Linked DNA regions of Homo sapiens: region 1 is linked to region 2. Evidence: fine-mapped expression QTL. A gene starts in region 2. The other region holds a variant in brackets. All regions are shown on one strand. Distances are from middle to middle.

What was found. PIP is the estimated chance that this variant, and not a neighbour inherited with it, causes the effect. A credible set is the group of variants that fine-mapping cannot tell apart.
Region 1: its variant is the best candidate, but not a certain one, in a credible set for the expression of PCSK9 in whole blood (GTEx, PIP 0.83).

Annotation. Positions count from the first base shown.
Region 1 is chr1:55,080,569-55,083,590 of GRCh38, forward strand. It overlaps USP24 (ubiquitin specific peptidase 24), which reads right to left. Exons shown (of 68, transcript NM_015306.3): 58 at 2,704-2,796; 59 at 754-856. Among named protein-coding and RNA genes, the nearest start is that of PCSK9, 43 kb to the left of the region's middle. The variant C/T (reference allele first, on the strand shown) is at 1,699.
Region 2 is chr1:55,038,501-55,041,000 of GRCh38, forward strand. It overlaps PCSK9 (proprotein convertase subtilisin/kexin type 9), which reads left to right and starts at 1,048. Exons shown (of 12, transcript NM_174936.4): 1 at 1,048-1,544. The coding sequence starts at 1,338.

The sequences.
Region 1 (3,022 bases), 42 kb after region 2:
TAAGTTTAAAGCACTGTGTGCTTTAAACACAATAAATTTAAAGCACAGCACACAGAAAACACTGAAAAGCTGGTTTGTTGTATTATTACTATGGTTGTTGTCACTATCATGACAAGACCCAGGAAGAGTATAAAAACAGTACACACATAAGTTAGGACACTGGATAATCATATAGGACAATTTGTGGTTTTGCTGTATTGGATGATGACTGTGTTATTAGTTCTGGGAGACAAAATGGAAAATGCTACCAACTGTATCTTACATTCAAATATATTTCAATGATGTAATTTATATCTGCATCCCCTTTGTTTTTACAAAGTACTTTATCTCATTATCTCATTATACCTGGGGAATTATGTTTTGAGTATTTTCATTTTGCACTGAAGATCAGAACGGTCAGGTTCACGAAACTAGGAGACTCCAGCCCACACCATGGCTATTTTCCACACAGTAGTGGTTCAAATTAAGGTGATAAATGAGCTCTGAATTAGCTTTTAATCCTAAAGAGTTGTTTTAAAAAAAATACTTATATACCCTCTCACCTCTCCCAAATGAATGATGACTCACTTTCTCTTATGGCAAACTAGTAAAATATTATAAAGTTTAACATGAATTAAAACAAAAATTTTAAGTGCACCTCAACTAGCAAGTAGTCGAATGAGAAACAAGAGACATTCATTTACTTGCTAATATAATTACTCTCCAAGCTAGACAAATTCAGTATCTCTTCATTCTAAGATATGTTAAGCTTACCAACATTCCTTTGGGATGAGACATCTGAATGCAAAACAAGTAACGCCACTGTATTGTGAAGATTCCCAAATTCTCGTGCTTGTGCTGAACTCCATCGACGTATCTGTCATCAGGGAAGATAAAGTGGCTGTTAGTGTTGTCGTCAGAAATAATATGAAGAGGAAGGGACAGGGTTTGCTGGTTCATAATATTCTGGGCTTTAATTATTTCTCAGTGCTTGACAGAAGAGGTCAAGGTACAAAAAAATCACAGGTTTTAAGCCAGCTCAAAGGGTTATATTAACTCATATTCTAAAACCAGTCCCTTTATGGATTCACTGTAGGTACTGAGTGCTTACAACGTGCCTCAGTATAATGGGAAAAACTCTGAGGCTGGAGATCTGCAGGTCTGGCCCTGCCTCTACCACTCACTGTGCCGCGTAATGTGAGTGAGTTCTTCACCACAACAGTATCTTGAGTTCTTCATGTACTGGCAGAGGTAAGGCTACCTGCCACCTCCCTATTCTGCCTACTTTGTGATTTTGAGGACTAAATGAAATATTAAAAGTGAAAATGTTTTCAAAAGTAGAAATGTGCTCCACAAATGCAAAATAGTATTAATTATACATGCAGCTGAATTATAGTGAATTTAAACTAATTGCTAGTGACAATGGGGCCTTGGATATGGAAGAGTTTGAAGTGGAAAAGGGATATTGTAAATTTCAACATAGTATCCACACACAGAGCACGTGATGCTGTCAGTACTTGTTTTTTTAACACTAAAGAGAAAGCTGAGAGGAAGCCTAAGTCGAAAATCTGTCTCCCTTAGCAGGAAAGGAAAAATGCCTGTGTAATGTGTTTACACACAGGGGAAAAGACTCTGGCTTTGACACCAGCAGAGCTGGGTCTGAATCCCTGCTCCACCAATGCATTAGCTTTGTGACCTTGGACAACTTACTTAACATCT[C/T]TGAGCTTTACTCCTTGCCTGAGAATGGGGATGAAGCTGCTTAATTTTGATGAACTGTGAGTATCAAAAGTATACCACAATAAAGTGACCAGTCGTATCAAGTACATAATAAGTACTCCATAAATAGTACTTATTACCACTGCATGTTAGCATTTCATGTATTTTGAATCTATCAAATAAAAGAAATACGATGGATGGGAGAAACACTGCAATAAAGCAATTTCAAACAGGAGAGTTGGTTTTGGACATATTCAACACTATTCTAACAAAACAACCTCGGTAAGCCGAGGTGGGCAGATCACTTGAGCCCAGGAGTTTGAGACCAGTTTGGGCAACATGGTGAAATCCTGTTTCTATACAAAATACAAAGTTAGCCAGGCACGGTGGCATGTGCCTATAGTCCCAGCTACCAGGGGGCTGAGGAGGGAGGATCACTGAAACCCAGAAGGTCTAGGCTGCAGTGACCCCTGATTACACCACTGTGCTCCAATCTGGGTGACAGCAAACCTGGTGACAGAGTGAGACCTTGTCTCAAACAGACAACAAACAAAAAAACCCAAACAACTTCCTTTTCATTTGAACAAGAGTATTATATCTGCACTATCATTCAGTTTATAACAGCACAACTTTGCATTTGGATTCTGGCTGTGTTTTCAGCATCTGACTTAAAAGAACCACCACCAAGACAGCCTTGTTCACAGCCCCAGAGAGGAAGTAGAAGACCCCAATACCACCTATTCCCTAAAGGTTTTTGAAACCCCCTCCCCAGTCAGAATCCACCTTTCCCTCTTATGACTTTGTCACTAGTTAGTAATTTCCATGGGTTATTAGACTAAATTGTATGAAGAAGTTGTAAAGATAATTTAACTCCAAAGAATTTTCAAGTCTCTATGGTACTACTACTTAGACTTTTATGAAATTAAAAACATTTATCACCTACAAAAAGAAACACAGCGGCTATGAAAACCATAGCTATTCCACTAGGGATATAAAAGTAGTCCTTACCTGATTGTTTTGCCGACTGGCCCCTAGGAGGAAGCTGATCATGTGCCGCAGAGCTGAATGCCTCAGAAGAAGATCTCCAGCCCTAATTCCTTGCTGTCACAAGATATTGAGAATAACAAATTATATTTCTATCCAGACAAAAATTGGTTTTAAAAACACAGCTAAATGGAAAGTTTTAAGGAGTCAATATATTTTTTAAGAATATTATTTCCATATAGAAAGTACTTGTTAAAATCTAATTAAAAAAACTCCTGAGCCTCACATTGCTTCACAATAACTACTAAACAATTAACCCCTAGTTTTAATGCAGACTTCTACT
Region 2 (2,500 bases):
CCTACTCTGTGCTGCGATGGCGGGCTCGATGGGGATAACTCTGACCTTACCTCATGGAGTCACTGTCAACCCACTGGTTGCACTGTCTTTGTGCACTGGCTCTCTGGAGTGAGGTCTTTGCAAACAAAGTGGAAAGAGCATCAACTTTGGACTCCAGCACCTAGATTCAGAGCAGGCCATTTCACTCGGAATCTGCTGTGCATCTGCAAGGGAGGATCATAAATTCGCCTTTGTTTCTTCCCAGTATCGACAGCCCTTCCAGAAAGAGCAAGCCTCATGTCATGCCACATGTACAATCTGAGGCCAGGAGCTCTCTTTCCCCTTTTCATCCTCCTGCCTGGTACACAATAGGTGTTTACTGGATGCTTGTCCAGTTGATTTCTTGAACATGGTGTGTAAAAGGAATCTTTGCAAATTGAATCTTCTGGAAAGCTGAGCTTGTGCCTACCATAGAATTCTGAATGTACCTATATGACGTCTTTGCAAACTTAAAACCTGAATCTTTGTAGTATAAATCCCTTGAAATGCATGTAGGCTGGACATCAAAAGCAAGCAATCTCTTCAAGGAGCAGCTAGTTGGTAAGGTCAGTGTGCAGGGTGCATAAAGGGCAGAGGCCGGAGGGGGTCCAGGCTAAGTTTAGAAGGCTGCCAGGTTAAGGCCAGTGGAAAGAATTCGGTGGGCAGCGAGGAGTCCACAGTAGGATTGATTCAGAAGTCTCACTGGTCAGCAGGAGACAAGGTGGACCCAGGAAACACTGAAAAGGTGGGCCCGGCAGAACTTGGAGTCTGGCATCCCACGCAGGGTGAGAGGCGGGAGAGGAGGAGCCCCTAGGGCGCCGGCCTGCCTTCCAGCCCAGTTAGGATTTGGGAGTTTTTTCTTCCCTCTGCGCGTAATCTGACGCTGTTTGGGGAGGGCGAGGCCGAAACCTGATCCTCCAGTCCGGGGGTTCCGTTAATGTTTAATCAGATAGGATCGTCCGATGGGGCTCTGGTGGCGTGATCTGCGCGCCCCAGGCGTCAAGCACCCACACCCTAGAAGGTTTCCGCAGCGACGTCGAGGCGCTCATGGTTGCAGGCGGGCGCCGCCGTTCAGTTCAGGGTCTGAGCCTGGAGGAGTGAGCCAGGCAGTGAGACTGGCTCGGGCGGGCCGGGACGCGTCGTTGCAGCAGCGGCTCCCAGCTCCCAGCCAGGATTCCGCGCGCCCCTTCACGCGCCCTGCTCCTGAACTTCAGCTCCTGCACAGTCCTCCCCACCGCAAGGCTCAAGGCGCCGCCGGCGTGGACCGCGCACGGCCTCTAGGTCTCCTCGCCAGGACAGCAACCTCTCCCCTGGCCCTCATGGGCACCGTCAGCTCCAGGCGGTCCTGGTGGCCGCTGCCACTGCTGCTGCTGCTGCTGCTGCTCCTGGGTCCCGCGGGCGCCCGTGCGCAGGAGGACGAGGACGGCGACTACGAGGAGCTGGTGCTAGCCTTGCGTTCCGAGGAGGACGGCCTGGCCGAAGCACCCGAGCACGGAACCACAGCCACCTTCCACCGCTGCGCCAAGGTGCGGGTGTAGGGATGGGAGGCCGGGGCGAACCCGCAGCCGGGACGGTGCGGTGCTGTTTCCTCTCGGGCCTCAGTTTCCCCCCATGTAAGAGAGGAAGTGGAGTGCAGGTCGCCGAGGGCTCTTCGCTTGGCACGATCTTGGGGACTGCAGGCAAGGCGGCGGGGGAGGACGGGTAGTGGGGAGCACGGTGGAGAGCGGGGACGGCCGGCTCTTTGGGGACTTGCTGGGGCGTGCGGCTGCGCTATTCAGTGGGAAGGTTCGCGGGGTTGGGAGACCCGGAGGCCGAGGAAGGGCGAGCAGAGCACTGCCAGGATATCCTGCCCAGATTTCCCAGTTTCTGCCTCGCCGCGGCACAGGTGGGTGAAGGAGTGAATGCCTGGAACGTACTGGGAACTGCACCAGGCACAGAGAAAGCGGGCTTGCCATTATAGTGGGTTCCGATTTGGTTTGGAAAACATGGGCAGCGGAGGGTGGAGGGCCTGGAGAGAAGGCCCTACCCGAGACAGGGGCGGGGTGGGAAGGACGGCAGATGCTGGGAGCACGAGGCAATTTCTTTATGACACAGAACTCATGCTCTAGTATTCCATCTGTTTCAGCCGAAGAAAAGAACCAGCTGAAGGGGCAGGGGAGAAGGGGCGGAGGTATTCTCGAGGCCCATTGGCGTCCTTTAGGACTCAGGCAGGGAAGGGCCCTTGGTGCTCTGGAGCCGGAGGTGGTGCGCCTGGTACTGGGACCCCGGAGCTGAGCCCGGCGCCTCAGCCCACCTGGCTGTCTGCCGACCGTGTGCGGGGCGAGTTTGCTCAACAACTCTGCCAGCTTCTGGCCCTCAGGCTGTGGGAAGCTTCTTCCCGGGGCGAGACCACTAGCTTTTTCTAAGTATTACCAGCCCAGGACTTGGCTGAGGTTCTGTGTCCCCCAGCTTGGAGTCAGATGTGGGGTTGAATCTTGGCTTC